Linked DNA regions of Homo sapiens. The protein of the gene in region 1 purifies or fractionates together with the protein of each later gene. This does not show direct contact. Each region holds a gene or a part of one and is shown on either strand. Other genes may lie near its edges. The genes, in order: PGLYRP1 and CNRIP1.

Region 1 (12,931 bases):
TACATGAATAATGAATCACAGCTGCTAGTGGACTTAGAAGTTTCCATTAGCAGCTGTGATTGAATTTCCAGAGTTCACAGCCTTATAAAGAGATATCTTTAGTCTGCTGGTCTATAGTCTTCCAAGTGGCAGAACAGGTGGCTAAGACATTGTCAACAACTCCAGAGTCAGAAGACGTAACATGTCCAGCCTTTAGAAATATTGTATAAAGCAGGGGTTGGTAAACTATAACCCACAGACCAAATCTCACCTATGTGCACACACACACACACACACACACACACACACACACACACTATATGTGGCCTATTTTAAACAGCCAATGAGTTAATAATGGTTTTTACATTTATAAAACATTTTAAAGCACACATAGACACACAGACACACAGAGAGAGAAACGAATATGCAACAGAGATTATATGTGGTCCATAAAGCCTAAAATATTTACTACCTGGGGCTTATAGAAAAAGTTTGCCAATCCCTGGACTAAGGCAAGAGTAACAGTTTTCAATTCAGCCCATTTTAAACCAGTGCTTATCACCACAGTTGCTAATGGAGTGGGATGGCTGCTGTCACCTTGTGTTGGGGACCAGCCTCAACACCACCCGTAGGGTACCCAAAGTCCGGTGGCGACGAAGGAATGAGAAGAGACAGGTTAAGAGTGCATAAAGGGTGGGGTGCCAGGGGGCCAACTGCACTTTTGGAGGCTGCAAAAGGTGCCAAACTCTGGTCTCCACACTACTGAGTACAATCACTTAGATCTGAGAAGCAGATATTCAGGGGTGAAATGGTGAAAGGGGGGCGGTGTGTCATACACCTAATCTATAGCAATGGCGGTTTAGGTAAATTGTCTTTGTGCTGAAGCAGCATAAACTTAACTACTGATTTATTCTTTAACTCACTGGAGAGCAGCTGTGGGGAGTGGGCGTAACTAGGAGCCGGCATATCTGGCCACATTCCAATGCTTCAAAGGAGTGTCTTTCTCCTTGAGCACAGTGCTTGTAAATAAGAGAGCAGGTCACGCTCTGGCCATGGGAACGTGATGGCAATTAGAAGGCTTTCCTCATCAGAGGCCTCCTGTGGCTTTCCACAACTTATTGTCCCATATTTTTTACGGCCAGTTTATGCAGGCACCGCACAAGCCCTTTTCCCAACAACCTTGTCATCACCAGCACCTTTTCTTTTCTTCTTTTGTAATTACTTTTTGTGTTGAACTCTTACAGACTCACAGGAAATTGCATGGTACATACAGTCCCACGTAACATTCATCCAGTATTCCCACAGTGGGAACATCTTACATAACCATAGTATAATATCAAAACCAGGAAAGTGACATGGGTACATTACTGTTAACTAGATTACAGAGGACCTTATTCAGTATTCACCAGTTTCACATGCATTCCTGTGTGTGTGTGCACGCATGTGCATGTGTGTTTCTATGCAATCTGATCCATATAAATATTTGTATACCTACCACCACAATCAAGATAGAGACCCACAAAGGAATCCCCTTGTGTTACCACTATAGTGGCAGGCACACACACATATACATGCACATACACAAACACACTGTATCTGTCCCTTTGCAAATACCAATCTGTTCTCCATCTCTGTTGTGTTCTCATTGTAAGAATGTTATATAGGCTGGGCGCTGTGGCTCATACGTGTAATCACAGCACTTTGGGAGGCCAAGGCGGGTGGATCACCTGAGGTCAGGAGTTCAAGACCAGGTTGGCCAACATGGTGAAACCCCATCTCTACTAAAAATACAAAAATTAGCCAGGCGTGGTAGTGCACTCCTGTAATCCCAGCTACTTGGGAGGCTGAGGCAAGGAGAATTGCTTGAATCTGGGAGGCAGAGGTTGCAGTGAGAGTGAGCCAAGATTGTACCACTGCACTCCAGCCTGGGTGACACAGCAAGACTCCGTCTAAAAAAAAAAGTTATATAATTGGAATTGTACAGTATGAAATCTTTTGAGATTGACTTTTTTTCACTTAGCATAATGCCCTTGAGATTTATCCAGATTATTGCATGTATCAATAGTAGTTCTTTTTTACTTTTATTTCTTAACCCAGTAATATTCCTGTCTTAGTCCATTTTTTGTTGCTTATAACAGAATACCTGAAACTGGGTAATTTATAAAGAAACAAAATTTGTTTCTTACAGTTCTGAGGCTGAAACTGTGGGGTCCTTCTGTTGACAGCCTTCTGGCTAGTGGGGACTCTACAGGGTGTTGAGGCAGCATGGGGCATCCCATGGCGAGGGGGCTGAGGATGCTAGCTAAAGTCTCTCTTCCTCTTCTTATAAAGCCACCAGTCCTACTACCATGATAACCCATTCATCTATTAACTCATTAATTCATGAATGTATTAATTCATTTATGAAAACAGAACTCTCACGACCCAATCACTTTTTTTTTTTTTTTTTTTTTTGAGGCACAGTTTTGCTCTTGTTGCCCAGGCTGGAGTGCAATGGTTCAATCTCGGCTCATTGCAACCTCCACCTCCCGGGTTCAAGTGATTCTCCTGCCTCAGCCTCCCGAGTAGCTGGGATTACGGGCGCCCACCACCACAGCCAGCTAATTTTTTGTACTTTTAGTAGAGACAGGGTTTCATCATGTTGGCCATGCTGGTCTCGAACTCCTGACCTCGGGTGATCCACCCGCCTCGGCCTTCCAAAGAGCTGGGATTATAGGCGTGAGCCACCATGCCCAGCCCATTTTTTTAAAGGAAAGGAAAAAAGAAGAAAAATGAAATGCCCTGTGACTTTGGACATCAGCATAAAACTCAGTAACTCTGCTCTTGGTCTCTACATTATGGTTGCTATTACTGTTCGTAGGAGCCCGCTACTCCCTGGGAGAGGCAGGCCCTCAGGAAAATCACAGAACAGGATCCCTGTTCCGCTAAAGGGCTGCCCTGTGACTGACAGGTGCGGGAGAAAAAGTGCGCGAAAGAGGACAAACGGGGAGGGCGCGCCCTCTGGTGGCTGAAGGAGGGAACCGCGTAGCATCTTTTTTCCAGCGCCAAGAACAAGCTGAGGATGCGACCTGGGAGCCTGTTTCCCTGACCCGCAGCAGGCCAATCGGGTCATCCACGTGAAATATCGTATATCTGGCTTTTAAAAATAGTTATTAGATGTTTGTTAATTTGCTTCCTGTCTTCCCCACTAGAATGTGGGTACAGGAAGTCCTGGGGGTTTTGTTGTTGTTTTGTTTTGTTTTGTTTTAGACAGGGTCTGGCTCTGTTGCCCAGGCTGGAGTGCAGTAGCGCAATCTCAGCTCACTACAACCTCTGCCTCCCGGGCTCAAGCGATTCTCCTGCCTCAGCCTCCCAAGTAGCTGGGATTACAGGCGCCCGCCACCACGCCTGGCTAATTTTTGTATTTTTAGGGGAGACAGGGTTTCATCATGTTGGCCAGGCTGATCTCGAACTCCTGATCTCAAGTGATTTGCCCACCTTGGCCTTCCAAAGTGCTGGGATTACAGGTGTGAGCCACCATGCCCGGCCAAGGAGGAGTTTTTTAACTGACTTAATTGTAACAGATTAAATCAGGGCAGCTAGTGAGTCTGATATTTAAAACTTCAATTTTCTAAAACATATAGGGAATAAATCTAATTTCCCCCTATCCAAAAAAAAAAAAAGTGCACAAGTAATACAGTCTCTCAGGATTAAAGGCAACATAATAATCACTCATTGAAGTTGCAGTAAACGCTCACAAGGCATGTTTCAATTTTAGGCCAACAAGATACACAATAGGCCCAGTGCAGTGTCTCATGTCCATAATCTCACCATTTTTGGAGGCCGAGGCAGGAGGATCCCTTGAGCCCAGGAGTTCGAGTCTGCAGTGAGCTATGATGGTGCCACTGCCCTCCAGCCTGGGTGACAAAGCAAGACTCTGTCTCTAAAATGAAATTTAAAATAAAAATAAATTTAGAGAGTGAGGTGGGAGCCAGAATTTGAGGGCTGAGGAAGGAAGTCGAGGAGCCAGGCAGGCCAGGTCTTACCTCAGCTTCTTTCCTCGAGGTCACCGAGGTGCCGGGCAGAACCAGCTCACAGGGACAGGGTACACAGCTACGCACAAAACTTATGGACTATACGAGCCGCTCCATCATCCACAATGCAAAAGGCCCTGTGCCACAAGGATAGCAAGCTCACCCTGTTGGAGTCAGAGTGAGAAGCTCAGGGGCTACCCTGAACTTGACAGCTGGATCCTGGGTGTTCGGCTTGACCACCTGGTCCATGGAGATGATCTTCAACTTTATTTAAAGTGTTTGTATTGTATGTAAAAATAAGTAAGTAAATATGGCTCACACCTGTATGTAAAAATAAGTAAATATGGCTCACACCTGTATGTAAAAATAAGTAAGTAAATATGGCTCACACCTGTATGTAAAAATAAGTAAATATGGCTCACACCTGTATGTAAAAATAAGTAAGTAAATATGGCTCACACCTGTATGTAAAAATAAGTAAGTAAATATGGCTCACACCTTTAATCCCAGCATTTTGGGAGGCCGAGGCAGGCAGATCACCTGAGGTCAGGAGTTCAAGACCAGCCTGGCCAACATAGTGAAACCCCCATCTCTACTAAAAAAAAAAAAAAAAAAAATACAAAAACTAACTGAGCATGGTGGTGGGCACCTGTCATCCCAGCTACTAGGGAAGCTGAGGCAAAAGAATTGCTTGAACCCAAGAGGCGGAGGTTGTGGTGAGCCAAGATTGTGCCACTGCACTCCAGCCTGGGCAACAGAGTGAAACTGTCTCAAAAAATAAATAAGTAAATACATTTTTTTAAAGATACAGACTAAATAAAACTCTCACAATGGAAGGCTTCACTCCAGCTGGCTAATGTTTATATTCTTAGTGTCTTTAAGGGATCTGTGCCTCAAATGAAAGAACAGGCAAAAGAAAGGGAAAAAAGAAAATAAAAATTAAAAAAAGGAATGTGATGTGTAAATAGTCCTGTCTTTTTACAAAAGGCTGGCTTGGTGTTTTGTTGTCTTAAAGCTAAGGTACAAAGTTCCTGAATTCGTTCCAGGTTCCTCTATTTAAAACTTATACCTGGTGTGTCTGAAGTCCCCAAGGGAACAGGGTAGTCAAAGCATGTTCAAGGGCAGCAAGAAGGGGACAGTGGCTGCAGGAGTCAGAAAGAGGCTTTTGGGAGTAAGCAAGGTGAGGCTGGGATGGGGGCAGCCCATACTGTAGGCAGCCCATGCTGTTGGCCATGGGGAGGAGCTTGGGCCTCATTCTAGGAATCAAGAGATGCCAATGAAAAATGTGACTCATTTTTGAGGGTGACTTTAGAAAAGATCTGAGCAGAGCTTTGGCTTCACAGAGGCCAGAGTGCATCCTGGGAGGTCACTGAAGAGGCAGGGCAAAATCCAGGTGAAAGGAGGTGGTGTCTGGACCAGGGTGCAGAGAATGGAATTAGATAGAAGAGTTCTAATTCATCACAGTGGCATTCCTTGGTGGTGGGTTGCATATCCATTCAATCAAGTAGCTATTTAGTGAGCACCTACCATGTGCTGGGCATTCTTTTGGGTACTGGGTACAACAGAGGAAGGAACAGGAATTAGTCAAGGATGGTGCTCAAATGTATGGCTTTTGTAATGGGAAGATGGTGATACCATTTCCTTAGACAGGAACTCCTGTGAGAGTGCTGATGGGGAGGAGAAGGTCATGAGTCATTTTGCATTGGAGGTGCCTGTGGGACATCCAAGTGGAGGCGTCAAGTGGCCAGGTGGATACACAGATCCAGAACTCAACTGAGAGCTCCAGACTAGACATTGAAATACAGGAATCCTCTGCATTTTGACTGTGGCTGAAGCCATTATGTGGATAAGATCACTCAGCACAAAATATATGGTTTGAGGGTCCAGGAGGGAAGAATTGCTCTGAAAAAAAGAGAGAGAGAAAAAAAGACCAGCCAGAGAAGCAGAAGGAAAATCAAGGCAGTCTTACATCACAAAAGCTAAGGGAAATAAGTATTTTGAGAAGGAGGAAGTGGTCGACTGTGTCAATTGCTATCCAATTTCCCAAGATCATGTAGCTAATAAGGGGCAGAATGGAAATTTAAAACCAGGTCTACCTATATAATAAACAGAACCTGGGCAAACGGCTAGGCATCTGGAAACAAGATCAGACCCCTACCTCACACCACATGCAAGTATACATTTTAGCCGAGATAAAGATCTAAAAGTAAAACACAAAATAATCTTTTTTAAATAGAAAAAGTTTTACAATCTTAGTGTGAAAAGTCCCTCTTAAGGCAAGACAGGAAACACAGAAACCATAAAAGAAAAACCTAGATATTTTTTTAACAGATTAGAGGAAAGGGTTTACAGCACATTTGATAAGACATAGGGTTAATATCCCCCATATACAACTCAACAAGAAAATGATCAGAAGAGATGAACAGACAGTTTGAAGATGGATGCTGATAGCCATAAATATGTAAAAAGATAATCACCTCTCTAATGTTCAAGGAAATGCAAATAAAGCAATAATGAGATCTTGTTCTTTGGATTAGTAAAACATTTAAAAACTGATCATATTGTGGGAAAAATATATACTAAAATCTTTTTGGTATTGTATTTACCAATTCCTATTAAAATTTTAAGTGTAGCTCTACTTCTTAATCCAGGCACTGGATACACAGGTGGATTCACTTCGTGAACACTCATAAGCTCACTACTCTATTAAGTCTATCAACTCTATAAAAAATGTGTTTACACACTTTTTATATTACATTATTCTTTAATGCTTCTAAAAAAACTGAAATACACAAAATGTACACACCCAAGAAGTCAAAAATCCCAATTATGGGATTCTTTTGTTCATTTTGCAAATAATAACAAAAAGGCAAACAACCCAATTTTTTTTAATGGGCAATGGATATGAACAGGTAATTGACAAAAGAGCAAGCCCAAATATAGACAGCAAATACAGAAAAATACCCAGTCTCCTGAGTGGGTATAAAAATGCCAAAGGAGCTGTCACTTTATACTTATAAATTTAAGAAGTGATAACACTGGCCAGGCAAGGTGGCTCATGCCTGTAATCCCAGCACTTTGGGAGGCTGAGGTGGGTGGATCACCTGAGCTCAGGAGTTCGAGATCAGCTTGGCCAACATGGCGAAACCCCATCTCTACTACAAATACAAAAATTAGCCAGGTGTGGTGGCACATGCCTGTAATCCCAGCTACCTGGGAGGCTGAGGCAGGAGAATGGCTTGAACCCAGGAGGTGGAGGTTTACAGTGAGACAAGATCGTGCCACTGCATTCCAGCCTGAGTGACAGAGCGAGACTCTGACTCAAAAAAAAAAAAAAAAAAGTGATAACACCCACTTCTGGGGTCGGGGTGAGGAGGCTCCAAAACATTACTGGTGAAAAATATGAATTATTAATGGCTTTTTGGGGAAAATGATCTGGTAATATTAATTAAATATGTATACTCATTGACCTAATAACTCTGTGTTTATAATTTACTTATAAATGCACCAGTGCATAGGGATATATGTCTGAAAATATTTTGCGTAGTGTGGAGAAAATACTGGAAAACCTTCAAAAACTAAAAGATCCACAATGCTGAACTGATACTATAGCATATTGTGCAACTATTATAAAGAATAAATTAGAATTAGATGTACTGCCCTGGTGAGATGCCCATGAAATATTAGGTGACAAAAGGTAAATTGATGCACATGGTTTTGATTTTTTTTTTTAATGTCCTTATATAAGTTTGTAGGGAGGAGAATACGGTTTATAACTCTGCAGGCAGAAAGCCTGTAGCCAAACCCTGGCTTCATCACCTCCTGTATGTGATCATCCCCCCGGGCCTCAGTTCCGTCAACTGTAAGAGGGGTTAATAATAACATGGATCTGGCAAGCTTGTCGTTGAGTATATGATAATTTCTGAAAAGTGCTACAGATGCCTGGTGCACAATTCAGTAACAGCATGAGTACAATGTATATGAGAAGGCAGAACACAGAAGATGAAAACACACCACACAGGTCAGGCACGGTGGCTCATGCCTATAGTAATCCCAGCACTCTGGAACACTGGCAGGTGGCTCACCTGAGGTCAGGAGTTCGACACCAGCCAGGCCAACATGGCAAAACCCCGTCTCTACCAAAAATATAAAAATTAGCTGGGCGTGGTGGTGTGCACTTGTAATCCCAGCTACTCAGGAGGCTGAGGCAGGAGAATCACTTGAAGCCAGGAGGCGGAGGTTGCAGTGGCCCAAGATCGCACCATTGCACTCCAGCCTGGGTGACAAGAGCAAAACTCCATCTCAAAAAAAAAAAAAAAAAAAAAGGAAAATATTATTTATAAAATAGAAAATTAAAAAAAAAATTTTAAATACACATTTTTAAAAACCACTTGCAGGCTCTCACACACTGCATATCCAGGATTCACATGCAGGCAGCCTGGCTCTAGACGCGGGGCTCCAGTGCCTCCGGTGTCTCAGCCCGTGACTTCCCTGCTCTCAACCTCAGTTTACTCCACTGTGAAATGGACTTCCAGATACTCACCTCTTGAGTTTGCTGCAAGCGTAAATGGCATCAGGCTTGGACCTGGGGGAAGGAAGTGTTTTTAAAATGGGTAGCTTTGTTACCTCAGTCCTTGCGGGGAGAAGATGTGCCAATGCCCCGGGCCTCTGCGATGTAAGTTCCTGTTGAGTTGTTCAATGTTCCACTGAGAGGAGAGACAAGCAGGACCGGGATCCCGGCCCCGGGTCTTCCAGAAACGGCGGGGCGAAGCGCCCAGGGGCCTGTGCGTCCCTCCCTGCTGAGCGAGGGGGCCTGTCATTGCCGTGGGCGTGACCCAGACCCCAACCACAGTGCATCCCGCCCTGGCCCAGCCAGAGAAGGAAGCTGAGTCTGGGGTCTGCTGGGCCAGCAGGAAGTCCCAGCAGGGTGTGAAGCAAGACTTTCCGGGCCACTCCTGGAATCCCCCAGCAGATAAAGGCGGCCCCTCCACCGGGCGCTCCTAGCGGTCTCCCGGACCCTGCCGCCCTGCCACTATGTCCCGCCGCTCTATGCTGCTTGCCTGGGCTCTCCCCAGCCTCCTTCGACTCGGAGCGGCTCAGGAGACAGAAGACCCGGCCTGCTGCAGCCCCATAGTGCCCCGGAACGAGTGGAAGGCCCTGGCATCAGAGTGCGCCCAGCACCTGAGCCTGCCCTTACGCTATGTGGTGGTATCGCACACGGCGGGCAGCAGCTGCAACACCCCCGCCTCGTGCCAGCAGCAGGCCCGGAATGTGCAGCACTACCACATGAAGACACTGGGCTGGTGCGACGTGGGCTACAAGTGAGTGTGGCAGGGGGGCACGGGCTGGACTGGGGATCCCAGAGGCAAAGGTGTGCAAGTGCCCGCCAGCGGGACCATTTCTAGGCCTGGTGCTGAGGCCACCTGGCTGACACCCTGAGCAGCTTACTGAACCTCACAAGGTCATTTCTTCCTCGGGTCACCACGTGGGCCGGGGCAGGTGCTCACAGCACAAAGATGCGTGAGAAGGGGGGATGGGCTGAAATCCAAGCCCCGCTCCCGCTCCCGGGAAGAAGGGGCAGGCTTTGCCTAACACACACCAAGGTGTCCGCGACGCCTTATGAAGGCGCCCCTTCCTGATGCCTGGTGCCTTTGTTAGGAGGCGGAAAACCAGGCTGACTCAGTGCGGAGCTGGGTTCCAGGGTCAGCTCATCTTATTGCTGGCTGAGGCCTGGGGCGGGTCCTCCCGGCTTCAGCTTCCTCCTCGGCAAAGTCAATGGAATCGCGGCCCATCTGCTCCTTATATGAGCCAATACAGGCAAAGCACCTAGGAACTGCCTGGCACACGGGGGCCCGCAAAGCCACGGGCTATTACCATTAGGCACCTACTATGTGCCAGGCAGTGTGCCAGATGTGGCATGGAGAACGGTGCCACTCTAGCCTCCTGGGGTTGAAAGACCAGCAGGGAGAAACAAGCCAAGGCCACAGGTGAATTCAGACGGTGATAGAGGCGATGGATAAAAGGAAAGAGGTGAGGGAGGGTGACCTCAGGCTGGGACCAGACCCACACAGGCTCCTTGGAAGGGTGGGGCAAGGGAAAGCCTCCCTGAGAGTGGCTGCCTTGGCTCTGGGATGGGGGAGCAGACAGAGGCCTGCAGGTGGCAGGGGGTGCTGGGGGCAAAGCCAACGGGGTTGAGTGGGCGGGTCCTGTGGGAAGGACAGGGTGGCTGAACACAGCCGGGCGAGCGGAATGAAATGAGGAAAGGGCAGGACCAGGCAGGGCTTTGTGGACCACAGTGAGGACTGTAGCTTTTACTCCGAGATGGGAGCCATGGGAGGCTTCCCCCCGCAGAGCAGGGACCAGGGCTAGTGTAGGTACAAGAGACTCCCTCTGGCTGCTGTGGGGAGAACAGACTGTAAGGGGTGCCGGCTGAAGCAGGCTGAAGCAGGTCCGGGGCCACGCCTACCAGCTACCTCCTCCTTAGAATGGGCTGCAGTCCAGCCTGACGGTTTCCACAGGGAGGGAACTTTCAATCCTGCAGGCTCTCAGACCCAGGTAAGCATCAGAATCTCCTGCAGAGCTTATTGGAGGAACATGCAGGTCCCCAGAGACCACTTCAATAGACCCCACCCAGGGGACACATGTTCTCAGGACCTCCTAAGGCTGTGTCTCACACACACACACACACAAAACCCACCCAGAGAAGTCTAGAAGTGTCCAAAGGTATTCCCAGCCCTTCCAGTTCAAGATTTTATCAAAGACTCCAACTTCAACATTTTGTTTCCAAGACTCAGGCGCTCTGATCCTAAGTGTTCCCATGAGGTCACGAAGGCCCGAGCCTCGGGTCCACATCACCACATACAGAAGCAGCCGCTGTCTGGCCCTCAGCTTTTAGGATTCCGAATCTGGTTCTAACGTTCTGAATCCCCTTTCCATGTCACGTCACCTTCTCTCTCTGAGCCTCGTTTCTTCACCTGTAAATGGGGCTTCTGACTGTACCCGCTTGGCGATGGTGGCTGAGGTTTCAATGAGATGCATTCATGCAACAAATGACCAGGGAGAACCAACCACCCCCGACCCCAGCACCATCATGCCAGGCTCCGGGAATATGGCAGGGCCATAACCAGCCAGTCCCAGCAGCCAGCATCACCAGCAGGGCCATAACCAGCCAGTCCCAGCAGCCAGCATCACTGGGGCCAGATTCTGGGAGCTGGCTTCCTAAGCAGCAGATTCGGGACTCAAGATTCGGAAGTTCCGACATTCTGTGCGTCATTAATGACACTGTGAGCGCGGGGGCTGAGTTGGCACATACTGCAGCTCCAAGGCACTGATCTTCTAGTTCATTCCCATTTGCCAAGTCAGACACGCTCAATCAGATGTGCTGAATGAATCAGCCTTAAGGATCTGCTGCCAGGCTTGGGAACCTCAAAGAGGCAGGTGCTGGGGCTCCAGGGTCGGTATCTGGTTACGACCCCAACTTTGAGTCTGTGATCCTGTCCCCCAGTGGACCCCGAGGGCAGGAAGCAAGCTGGGGCAAAGGCAGAGTTCTGAGAGGCAGGGGGCTCTGAGTAGCTTGTACAAATTATGTCGCTTTCTGAGTCTCTGCTCTCTCTGCTTAAGATGAGGATGATAAGAGTCCCTGCCTTGGCTGGGCACGGTGACTCATGCTTGTAATCCCAGCACTTTGGGAGGCCAAAGGCGGGCAGATCACCTGAGGTCGGGAGTTCGAGACCAGCCTGGCCAACATGGTGAAACCCCATCTCTACTAATAATACAAAAATTAGCCGGGTGTGGTGGCTCATGCTTGTAATCCCAGGTACTCAGGAGGCTGAGGCACGAGAATCACTTGAACCCAGGAGGCAGAGGTTGCGGTGAGCTGAGATCACGCCACTGCACTCCAGCCTGAGCAACAAGAGTGAAACCCCGTCTTAAAAAAAAAAAAAAAAAAAAGTCTCTGCCTCAGAGGGCTGTCCTGCAAGGATTCAGTAAAACAGGACTTCCACAAATCCTCTAGGGAGGCAGGAGAGAGCAACGCACAAGATCACATGGGTGGGGACCATGGAGGCCTGGTTAAAAACCCCAGCTGTGCCCCAGACAGGCTGTGTGACCCCGGGGCAGGTGATTCTACCGCTCTGATTCTGTCTATATAAAACGGGGGTGATAGTGACTCACAGGGTTGCTGTGAGGATGGAAAAAGGTGTATGCAGAGCTGTGCTTGGCACATGGCAGGGGCCCAATAAATGACCACAGTCATTGTTACTATCGTGGGAAATTAACGGGTGAGAAGGATGCTGGGGAAGTTGTGTGCACCACGGCAGTAACGGAGGCAGGGTGAGTGGAGGAAGGAGGAGGAGTCCTCCTCGGGAAACCCTCCCTCACTCATCAAGCCCCCCCACCTCCCCATGCAGCTTCCTGATTGGAGAAGACGGGCTCGTATACGAGGGCCGTGGCTGGAACTTCACGGGTGCCCACTCAGGTCACTTATGGAACCCCATGTCCATTGGCATCAGCTTCATGGGCAACTACATGGGTGAGTGACTGTCCAGCCAGTTGGGATGGGGGCTGACACGGGGCCCTACGCTATCACTTCCCCTTCGGGGAAGCCCCTGCCTGACTCCTACCTCTGCCTCCTCCAGATCGGGTGCCCACACCCCAGGCCATCCGGGCAGCCCAGGGTCTACTGGCCTGCGGTGTGGCTCAGGGAGCCCTGAGGTCCAACTATGTGCTCAAAGGACACCGGGATGTGCAGCGTACACTCTCTCCAGGCAACCAGCTCTACCACCTCATCCAGAATTGGCCACACTACCGCTCCCCCTGAGGCCCTGCTGATCCGCACCCCATTCCTCCCCTCCCATGGCCAAAAACCCCACTGTCTCCTTCTCCAATAAAGATGTAGCTCAAAATGTGTTCCTCAGCAGGTCCCACCACACACCTCCCCT
Region 2 (12,112 bases), on another chromosome or scaffold:
TAAATAAATATAATTGTTATAGTAACAATTACTAATTGTTTGGTGGTATATTAATTGGTTTGCAACATAATTGCATTTAGAAAGCAATATTGCATCTGTGGAAAAATATTAAAATTGCCATAACACCTGCATATTTAAAAACATCTGTTAGTTAATACCACCTGCTAAGCATTAAACCCCTCACTGATCAGATACAACCTACTGTGCCACAGCCTGACATTCTGCCACTGTTCTCTGGAAATCTGAGCTATATGCTGTTGTTAAACGTTTGAAAGTTTAAGTGTAATTAAAATAACCTCAGTAATCAAAACGTCAGCATCTTAACAATGTTTGAAATATTTGAACAATTAGAAAAATGGGGGGAGGGGCACATGGTAAGCAACCTGAATCATTGTCACTTGCGTTTAACAGAGTAAAAAAAAAAGAAAAAGAAAGAAAAAGAAAAAAAAGAAAGAAAGAAAGAAGGAAAGAAAACGTTATGGAAAATTGTTTTTCTTGGAAGAGAAAAAGATGTAATGGATTGGATCCATCACAGGAGACTCGGGAAATGGCCCTTGTTTGGTTTGATCTGCACTAAACAAAAAATATTTGCAGCCTTAAGAATAGAAGACAATTTTGGCCGCATGCAGTGGCTCACTCCTGTAATCCCAGCACTTTGGTAGGCCGAGGCGGGCGGATCACGAGGTCAGGAGATCGAGACCATCCTGGCTAAAACAGTGAAACCCCGTCTCTACTAAAAATACAAAAAATTAGCTGGGCGTTGTGGCGGGCGCCTGTAGTCCCAGCTACTTGGGAGGCTGAGGCAGGAGAATGGCGTGAACCCGGGAGGCGGAGCTTGCAGTGAGCCAAGATTGCACCACTGCACTCCAGCCTGGGCGACAGAGTGAGACTCCGTCTCAAAAAAAAAAAAAAAAAAAAAAAAAGAATAGAAGATAACTTTAATGTGTTATTTTGCTCAATAACCATATTCACACAATATCATTAGTTTTTCAGAGAACACACTGGAGAAAATGGCAATGACCAGTGGCATAGGTCCAATGCATGGAAACCTTGTTTGCAAAGACTGAAAAATGACAGCTTTGTGAGTTTGCTCAGTGTGAAGATGGGAAATGATGGTGTTTGGAAAGCAGAGAGCAAAAACAAAATTGAGCTCAATATCACAGACTATGACTGGAAAATACAGAACTCTGAAAAGACAGTTTGTTCATTGATACACTCATATGCCATGGACCTCGCTGTATTATTTGAAAACCAAAGAAGACTTTGCTATTTTTTGATTTAACAATTTGTGTAACATTTTGTGTTCCTAAAAGTAGCTGTATCATTTTTACCTTTGAAAGAAATCTATACAGGGAAAATATGCCCTAAAAATTAAGTATATTATAAATATTATATAAATTTTGTACTGGATTTTTTACTAATTCCATTTTTACCTCAGATTTGGATTATCCATGCTGCCTTATCTTCTCCCAGCCCTCCATGACCCCCAACATTTCGATTAATTGAAAGTTGCCCATACCATGATTGCTGTAGGACTTCAAAGGAAGTGAGTGTTTGTGGGGGCTGGACTAGTCGGTTATAGCTTCAAGGAAAAGGAAGAACTTGACTCGGGCCTTGATGAAGGAGAAGAATGACAATCTTGAATAATTAATGTATCTGTACATTCATTGAACCAATATAAGCACCCCTATACAGTGGGGTCAGTTCTAAGTACTGGGAATATAGTTATAAACAGAATATAATCTCTGCCCTAAAGGTATTTATACACTGGGGTTGCAGAGGACAGTGGGGGTACAATATACAAGTAGGCAAGTTTCTTTTGTAATTACAGTTGGTGACAAGTGCTCTGAAGAAAAATACAGTGAGTGAGGACCTGGAGTATGATACAGGCGGGGAAATATTCACAACAGACTGTAAGGGGAAAGAGTGGGAGTGGGATGGACATCAGGATGCCATGTGCAGTGTTCTGCATGGGGGTGATAGCAGCCTGTACCGCAGTGGTAACAGTAGGAATGGTGAGAGGTGCCTGGAAACAGCTTGCTTGTGAAGAACTGATAGGACTTCCTGATAGATTTGATGCAAAGGGTTAAAAAGACAGGGATCAAGAATAAACCAATTTTTTTTTACCGGAGCAACTGAGTAAACTATGATGCCTCTTACTGAGATAAGAAACCTTTGGTGGGGTGTGGTGGCTCATACCTGTAATCCCAGCACTTTGGGAGGCCAAGGCGAGTGGATCTCTTGAGGTCAGGAGTTCAAGACTATCCTGGCCAATATGGTGAAACCCCATCTCTACTAAAAATACAAAAATTAGCCATCATGGTGGCAGGTGCCCGTAATCCCAGCTACTCAGGAGGCTGAGGCAGGCAGATCACTTGAACCTGAGAGGCAGAGATTGCAGTGAGCCAAGATCACGCCACTGCACTCCAGCCTAGGTGACAGAATGAGTGAGACACTGTCTCCAGAAAAAAAAAAAAAAAAAAAAAAGTAACCCTCAGGGAGAATGAATTTGAGGTTAAAAAAATTGAGAATTCACTTTTAGCCATGTTATGCTTGGGACACCTGTTAACCTATCAGACACGCATGTAGAGATATTCTGTCAGGAGTTGGTTATGTGAATCTGGAACTTAGACAAATGTTTGAACCTGGAGATATAAAATTAGAAGTATCGGTGTGGTAGAAATAATACAGATATTTCCACCTAATGTAAGGAGGTTTGTGTTCTTTTTCAATGGAACTCTAGCCAGCCTCACAAAAGGAGTCAAGAACAGGAAAAGTAGAAAACTATCTTCATGGAATCTAGTTTTAATTGAGTATTTACTTTCATTTGTGGAGAAAAAGTGAGTGGAGCTGTCCTGGTTGTTCAGGAAAGATAACATTTATGTAGGGAAACAGCAAAAGTATTATTTGGAACATAAAGTGCTATGCTAAATTGGCCCAGAACAAAATACGAAACTGACATTATGATCGCCATCACCTGACCAAGGTGCATGTGACTGTATAAGGAGGTAACCAGATCCCCTAAGAGCCTAGCAGACAAATGAGGTCTACTGCTTATTGCCATGGCTACAAAATCCTTTGGGTCTAAGGGAGGACCTAGGTTCTTCAGAATTGGTCCAGGAGGATGGCTTTGTCTTTATGTCTGTTAAATCTAGCCAGAAAGAAAGCCCTGATATAAATGTAAAGTGTACCTGGCTGGGCACTGTGACCCACATCTGCAATCCCAACACTTTGGGAGGCTGAGGCAGGTGGATCACTTGAGGTCAGGAGTTCAAGACCAGCCTGACCAATATAGTGAAACCCTGTCTCTGCTTTAAAACATACAAAAAAAATTAGCTGGGCATGGTGGCACGTATCTATAATCCCAGCTACTCAGAAGGCTGAGGCATAAGAATTGCTTGAACCTGGGAGGCAGAGGTTGCAGTGAGCTGTGATTGCACCACTGCTCTCCAACATGGGTGACAGAGCTAGACTCCATCTCAAAAATAAAAGTAAAATAAAATAAAATAAAATGTAAAATGTACCAGTTAAGATCTCTAATGCTAAGACATTCTGAGGTAGGCAAAGGGAAGGAGTCAAGCACCTCATAAATCATTGACACTAATTTAAGAATAAAAATAAGAAATAACTCCTGCAGATGTTAAACTGTACCTGAATGCAAACATGAATACAAAGGAAAATACATTGTTAAATGTGCTGGTATTATATTGTGTATATGTGTTTGTGTGTGTGTATAACCCAAGCCCAGGACACATTATGACACATGACATAATTGAGTGTATACATATGTATGTGTATAACCCAGTCCCAGCACTCTTAACTACGTTATTTTCATATACATGCACACAACTATGTCCTGTGTCATAATTCTAACTGTTTTTGAACTCTATATTATGAATTCAGCAGAGACTGGAACAGCGAATATGGAACGGTTGTTAGCACAATGTCTTAGTCTGTTCATGCTGTTATAACAAAATATCTTAGCCTGGATAATTTATAAACAACAGAAATTTATTGCTTACGATTCTGGAGGCTTGGAAGTCTAAGGTCAAGGCACCAGCAAATTTGGTATCTGGTGAGGGTTCACTGTTTGCTTTATAGATGGCAAATTCCCGCTGCATCCATACATGGTAGAAGGGGGCAAACGACCTCCCTCAAGCCCCTTTTACAAGGGTACTACTAATCCCATTCACGTGGGCAGAAGAGCCCTTATGACCTAATCACCTCCAAAAGAACCCACTTCTTAATACTATTGCTTTGTGGATTCGGTTTCAACATAGCCATTTTGGGGGAACACAAGCAGCTGGGAGGCTGAGGCAGGAGAATCGTTTGAACCATAGCATGTGATTCCTCTGAATGACAACTAAGTCCATCGTTCACTTGGGCTCAATTTCACAGTTTTCAAAAGAATGATAATAAGCATTGTCCATTAGACAGACAATGTTTAAGATCACCAATCTGAGGTAATAATTAAAGAATCTACAATAAGACTGAAAGCACTAGATACCTTAAAAATATATAGCAAGAAATGAATTAATGCAGGAAAAAAAAGCCAAATACCGCATGTTCTCATTTTTAGTGGGTGCTAACCATTGGGTACCCATGGACATAAAACAGTTTTTCAACCCTTACTTGTCTCCCTCCCTCCCTGGCTAGTAGTCTTCATTCCATTGGTAACAATAGACACTGAGGACTTGGATGATGGGATCATTTCTACTCCAAACCTCAGCATCATGCAATACGCTCCAGTAACAAACCTGAATCTAAACTAAAAGTTGCTACATATTCAGCAAGTATATTTTTAAATAAAAATAGTTACAATGTATTGAGTGTCTCTATGGGCCTGATATTCTTGCATAGTTTACACAATTTCATTTGGTTCTATATGCATCATCTATGTCACCATCATCATTTTACAAATGAAGAAACTGGGGCTCCAAGAGACTAAAGCAGCTTTGCTCAAGGTCACTCAGTTTGTAATCCACAGATCTGGCAACACAAACACAGATCCATCAGACTCCATATTCATATTCTTTGCACATATGTATCAGTGATGATAAATTTTCCAATTACTTTTACATTTATTAATTTCATTTTAAGACATTACATTGTATGGTCCTGAAAATGCTATTCCTAATGGATATTGCCCAGCATTAGTAACACCTCGTATTTGAAAAGTAATTTATTTTTTTCAAACAATTTCCATTTCCTCATTCAATTCTCACAATGTTGGGAAGGAGGTATTTTAATCCTCATTTTACAAAGATGAAACATAAAGATGTTAAGTTATTTGCATAACGAAACTAAAAAGTGGCAGAGTTAGGTTTTTTTTATTTTATTTATTTATGAGATGGCAGTCTTACTATTTTGTCCATACTGGCCTCAAACTCGTCGGCTTAAGTGATCTTCCCACCTTAGCCTCCCAAGTAGTGGGGACTGCAAGAGTGCACTACCTAGCCAGGCTAGAACCAGAGTTTTTGTTTTTGTTTTTGTGTGGGTTTTTTTTTTTTTTTTCAGATGGAGTCTCACTTTGTTGCCCAGACTGGAGTGCAGTGGCATGATCTCGGCTCACTATAAGCTCTGCCTCCCCAGCTCAAGCGATTCTCATGCCTCAGCCTCCCAAGTAGCTGGGACTACAGGCATGCGCCACCACGCCTGGCTAATTTTTTGTATTTTTAGTAGAGACAGGTTTTGCCATTTTGGCGAGGCTGGTCTTGAACTCCTGGCCTCAAATGATCTGCCCTCCTTGGTCTCCCAAAGTGCTGGGATTCCAGGCATGAGCCACCATGCCGGCCTTAGAACCAGGTTTTAAAATGGAGTCATCATCCTCCAGGTCCAATGCTCTTTTTGATACACAGGTGGAAGTTGGCTTGAGATTGTGGGGTTGCTAAACAAAAGGTTGAGGAAAAAAGGCAAAATTTCCAAAAAGGCTTTTAAATGACCCCAAAAAGATACTCACCCTCTTTCCACTACTCATAAACCATAATAACCAACATTAAGTTTACTGTGTAACTCTCTCATTCTTTTAAAAGAGCTAATACAAACATACACATTTATATTCTTTTTAAATTTTCATTTTTCTAAAACACTAGAGATGCTACTTGCAATTAGATTTCTTTTCATCATTCCAGGTAAATCGCAAGGATCTAATTAATTTTAAAGATGTGAAAGAATTTACATATGGACATGATTAAGACCACAACCGTAAGTCAATTCAACAACGATTTCTGGAGCACCTACTATGTGTCAGGCACTATTTTGGCATGCTGGGGAAACAGCAACAAACAAAACAGACAAAATGCTCGCCCTCAGGCTTTGTTTCCCAGCCATCCCACTTTTATCATTAACAGTTTTTGCCTGTGTGTTTGCCAATGCAACCTATATTTCATTATTTTGATAGTTGTGTAACGTTCTATAGTGTGGGTATATAAGAATTTATTCAGCCATTTATTTATTGGTTAACATTTCATTTAGGTTTTATTTTTATTTTTGCAACCAATGTTGCAATAAACACCCATATTACATATATATTATATGTATAGCTTATTATTTCTTAAAAAAGAGCAGTCTAACTTGGGTAAACAAAAACTGCCAAGGAAACGCATCCCTACCCATTTGTTCTCACTAGCCCACTTCATTTCCCAGGTGTGCTCCCTGGCTCTGGTACTATCCATCTGGGTGGTGCTGAAGCAGGTGCTCTCTCTGCTCCGGGAAGCCATTCCCAGTATAGTCCTCACCCCCTGAGTCTCCCCTCGCTTCCAAAAGTCAGCTGTCTACCGACCTCTGCCACGAAAACTGTCTAATCACGCTTAATATGCAAATCTAAACTCTGCGGTGTCGCATATGGCCCCCTGCCAATAATCCTTTGACCCATCCCACCTCTTGGCCATTTTGTCACCAGAATGCCTTAGGCTCATGTCAGTTGCCTTTTACAGGGTTAATAGCTCACCCTTCAAAATCTGTGTAAATATATGTGATTCATTACATATATTTATGTATGTGTCATTTTTGGGACGAGCATACGTATAATGGAAATGTACACCCACAAGAAGATGTAGCTCCTTGAATATGGTTATTTTCTTCCTCTTGCATCCATTCCTCATCCAGCGTGGCTCCATCACGTGGAATTGCGCCTTTCCTCGGCCATTTCCCCTAAGCTTTGGAAAGACTCATATTTCCTGAAATTTAAATCACCGGCTAGCGGTTTCCTGTCCCCCCTTCCCGCCTCCCTTTACCCCCCCTCAGCCTCCTCCCGCCTGGCTGGCGCCGGATCCGCGAGCAGCAGTGTCCACCTCACGTAGCTGGCCGAGGCGGTATCCAGATTCCGGGGGTCTCGCTCCTTGGCATAGTGGTCGCTTAACTCCAGCGCCTTCCCAGTGCCTCCCAAACCTCTCCTCCTCCTGCCCGGGGCTGTTCTAGGAGGAGCCTAAATGTCCGCTTCCCCAGCTGAAGGGGATTGTGGTGCGTAAACAGGATTAACTCCCTCGCCCCCAGCTGCGCGGATCTGCGCGGCGGCCTGCGGGCCAGAGCGAGCCTTCGGGTGCGTGGAGGGCGCAGCACTGGAGCGGGGGATGGGGAAGCGCGCGGCCTTGGAGCCGTCTCTTGGGCCCGCTTCCTCGCCGAGTGGGGAGGGGGGCCACAGCCTAAGGAGCTGCTCCTCAAAAGCCCGGGCGGACGGCGGCGACGGCGCGGGTTCCTAGCGGCAGCCTCAGCTCCACCACCTCCCTCACCCTCCCCGCGCTTCCTCTCCGCCCCTCGCGCTCCAGCCACTCGGCCGCAGCCGGCGCTGTCCTCCGCCCCCCGGAGCCGCCGCGCCAGACCCTCGCCCAGACATGGGGGACCTGCCGGGCCTCGTGCGCCTCTCCATCGCGCTGCGCATCCAGCCTAATGACGGCCCGGTCTTTTACAAGGTGGACGGGCAGCGCTTCGGCCAGAACCGCACCATCAAGCTGCTCACCGGCTCCTCCTACAAGGTTGAGGTGAAGATTAAACCCAGCACGCTGCAGGTCGAGTGAGTGCGGGGCGCCTGGTGGCAGCAGGGTCCCCCATGGGGTACAGGCAGAGGACTGAGGCCCCCAGGACAGCCCGAGCCTCTCAAGGGCCTCTGGCCTCGCGCCGCTCCCAGCGGGCCCGGGGGTTGGAGGAAGAGGTCACTCCCTGTCCGCCTTCGTCCCCTTCCTTCCCTTTGGCTTGTATTCCTCCATTCTCGCTTCCCTCCACCCATCGCAGTGACCTCAGTGGGTTCTTTAAAATCAGTGACAAGAAGCCAGGGTTTTTGCTTGTCTGTTTCTTATAAATTTCTCCTGCCTTCTGTCCAGCCTTGGGCGCGGAACCGCAGGCGGTCGGGGTGGAGCAGATGGGAGAGGTCCGCAGGGTTCAGCCACCGCAATCCCAGCCCTCCTGCGCGCGGTCCAGGCGGCCCACAGGGTCTGCCCGCAAGGCTGAAGGAGGGAGAAAGGAGGAATGAGGTGGAAAGGCAGGGGAGGGGTGATTACTGGGGCTCCCTGAGGGATGCTCCCCACTCCCTTCGCCATTCAGTGGCTGGGACCCTGGGGTGGAGCAGCAGACACTAGTAAGAGAGCGGCCGCCCCTTCTCTGGCCTAGTTTCACGGTTTTCCATGCCGTATGCTGTTCTTTTTCTCCTGAGTTTTCTGTTCAGGCTGGTGATGGTGCCTGGGATTAGCAACATCCCCACAGCAAGAGGATGTTTTTTGGTTTATCCATGGCAGGGACGATTTCTTGCCAGCGACCGCTGGATAATGCACCCAGTAGACCTCTGGCGGGAAAGTGTGTGGGAGCATGCAGTAGCCTACCCGGAAGAACTGCGGGTGGAGCCCCTTTACCTCTCGTTTCTACCTACCAAAGTCTAGTCTGCAGAGAGAAAATAAACCAGCATTTATTGTATCTACTACATATGGTGGGCATTATTGCGGGGGTGGAAGGACTTTGAATTCATCAGATACTACTTATAGCTTACGTTTTAATTCAGTAAACTTGTATTAGCCTTCCAAGGTGCAAGGACCTAGAACCAAATCTGGATGGTTTCTGGTACTCCTGATTCATCTATTTGTCAGCATCCCCCACAGCTCCATGCACCCTTTATTCTCACATTTCCCAGTGTTCTGTGCACCTGGATATAATCCAGGCTTTTCCTTTCCCTTCTTTCCTGCCAACCTTATCCCCGGAGTTATCTGTTAATATATTTCTTTTTTTTTTTTTTAGAGTATTCCTCTAGTGTTCAAACTAATCTAAAAGTTAATTTGTTAGGAATAAAACTATTTTTTCTGGTTACATTTTAATGCTATCAAGGATTTCTCAACTCTAATCCTGTGGTTCTCAAACCTGAGTATATATCAGAATCACCTGGAGTGCTTGTTAAAACACAGATGCTGGAGCTCTCCCTAGAAGTTCTAGTTTAGTCTATGGTAGGGCCTAAGAATTTGTTTTCTAAGGTCTGCAGGTGATGCTGATACTGCTGGTCCAGGGACTTGGCTTTGAGAACCATTATCCTAACACAAAAGAATGATGCCAGTGAGAATTTCTGATGGTGTAGAAGGCTTGAGGTACTCCAAATCATAGGACCCCTGATTGTTGGAACAGGAGAAAAAAAATATTAGAGGACGAGTTCAGTATTCTCAATCCTACCTGCATATTAAGATCACCTAGATAACCTTAAAATAAATGTACCAGTGTCCAAACTACATCCCAGGCCAACTGAATCCTAATGTCTGGGGCTGGGGATAGGTAGGTTTTTAATTCATAAATAGGAGAAGCACTGCCCCCTGAACTTGCAGAACTTTCTCCCGCACCACAATGCCCCCCTTAGTGAAACCCTGTAAGTTTCCTGCCTAGAGTTTTGGTCCAAAACAGGACAGGGTGCCTAGGCTAATTTCAACCGTATGTGGTCAACTCAAGTCTATTGCAGGAATATTTCCATTGGTGGTGTGCTTGTCCCACTGGAACTGAAGTCTAAAGAGCCTGATGGGGACAGAGTTGTTTATACGGGTACATATGACACAGAAGGTGTGACCCCAACGAAGAGTGGAGAACGGCAACCCATCCAGATCACCATGCCGGTAAGGCTTGCTTGCGGGTATAGGAGTATGGTGCCATGGAAAATGGAAACCACAGAAAAGAAAACAATCACTATCTCTCTGTAAGAAAAGGTGTGTTGGGAGCCAATTACTGTGGAAATTGAGTTGTGGATTTCCTTCAAGCATCTGCTGGAGAGAGAACTACTTAATTAATGCTCTTTTGCATGACAGACTGACCCTGTAGATGCTGAAAAGACACCATAAGCAGAAGCAGATGGTTCTGGAAGAGACAGAACCTACATTGCCATTTTCCCAGTTATAGTCTACTTCAGAACTGGTTTAGATAATTGGCTGTGAAAAGTTTCTGATTCCAAGTAGGCCACAATATTCTGGTTAAGAGAAAGCTGATTTGAATGACACTTTGCTACTTAAAGCTAAATGGAGGAGCCAAAAAAAGTGTCATGGGAAAAATACACCTCTTATATAATATCCTATAATACACCTATTTTATATAATATATACCTATTATATATACACCTATATAATATATATATACCTATATTATATATACCTATTATATATAATATCTGGTAATCCTATCAGATATCATATATAATAAAATGATATACCCTGGTAATATGGCCCCAAGTAAGAAAAAACAAATTGGTAGAAAGGATAGAGTCAAGACATAGATTTAACTATATGTGCAAACATAATAAATAGGTGATGAAGCAAGCTTGCTAAAGCACAGGAAAAGGAAGCTTCACCTAAACTGCTGCTTGCAAACTGGGCAGCCTTTTCCCTCTGCAAGAACAACCTTCAACTGTCTGCCCTCTAGCTTTATAGGAAGTATCACAAGGGTTCTCAAATATCGGTATGCGTGAGAATCTCTTTGGGAGTTTGTTTAAAATTCCAGTCCTAGGTTCCCTCTCCAGTGATCTTAGCTCAGTAGAGCTAGGGTGGGGACAGAGAAACTCTTAGCAAGCATACCAGATCCTGAAGAGGATGGTGTGGGAATGCACTTTGAGAAATGCCTATCTAACCTTTGGAAACTTAAAGTGTTCCCAGTCCCCATTATACTTTTTAAAACCACAATAGTCACATAAGGAAATAATCTAGCAGCTCATCCCTTTGCATCCAATGTTTGAACTATTTTTAGAAAGTGCTCTTGTTCTGTCAAAGAACCTTCAACACAGAAAAATACAAAAATGAGGGAAATGTATAATTCCTGCAAGAGAGAAGTGTTGTTAACATGTCAATAAATGTTCTTAGAAAGTTGTTTCTATGTCTTTGAATATATATGTGTGAGCCTGGGCAACATAGTGGGACCCTGTCTCTAAAAAAATTTTTTTTAGTTAACCGGGTGTGGTGATACCACACCTGTAGTGCCAGCAACTTGGGAGGCTGAGGCAGGAGGATCACTTGGATCCAGGAGGTTGAGGCTGCAGTGAGCTATGATCACACCACTGCACTCCAGCCTCGGTGACAAGAGTAAGACCCTGTCATTAAATATATATATTTGAGTATCATTCCATATATATACTTTTTTCTACTTGTATACATCTTTCAATGTCAAATATATGCCCATATATATATATGGAATGTCATTTTAAAGTCTGTATGGGTATTGTATTTTATGAATGTATCAAATTATCCTCAGTCACTTATTGCTGATTATTTCTGGTTTTCGGTATTATAAACAAAACCACATTACAAATCACTGAGTACTGTACAATTGTCTAATGTTTTCTTGATTTCTAGAAGAAATGTGCACGTTAAGGCATTTTATAAGACTGCCTCACTGACCTCCAGAAAAGCTAGGCAATTTACACGCCTATCATCTGTATTTAAGTATCCATTTCTCTCTGCACTAGGTATAGTTTGTCATGTTTACATATTTTTAATCTGACTGAAATACTTCAATTTTTACTTACTGTTAATTTGAAATCCTGACATATTCATTTACTATTTGTATTTGCTTCATGGATTATATGTTCATAGTTTTCACCCATTTTTCTGCTTAAGTGTATCTTATTGATTTTTTGAAAAATCTTTATAAATTTAAAATCGTCATTTTT

Evidence for each region.
Region 2: the proteins of PGLYRP1 (region 1) and CNRIP1 purify together in Homo sapiens (affinity purification with mass spectrometry; 3 studies listed by BioGRID and IntAct, with this or other methods). This does not show direct contact.

The regions. Positions count from the first base shown.
Region 1 is NC_000019.10:46,019,117-46,032,047, reverse strand, and holds PGLYRP1 (peptidoglycan recognition protein 1 precursor), read left to right. Parts: upstream 1-8,994; 5' UTR 8,995-9,026; coding exon 9,027-9,313; intron 9,314-12,400; coding exon 12,401-12,522; intron 12,523-12,628; coding exon 12,629-12,810; 3' UTR 12,811-12,895; downstream 12,896-12,931.
Region 2 is NC_000002.12:68,315,121-68,327,232, reverse strand, and holds the start of CNRIP1 (CB1 cannabinoid receptor-interacting protein 1), read left to right. Parts: upstream 1-7,283; 5' UTR 7,284-7,832; coding exon 7,833-8,011; intron 8,012-9,915; exon of another isoform or gene 9,916-9,925; coding exon 9,926-10,076; intron 10,077-12,112.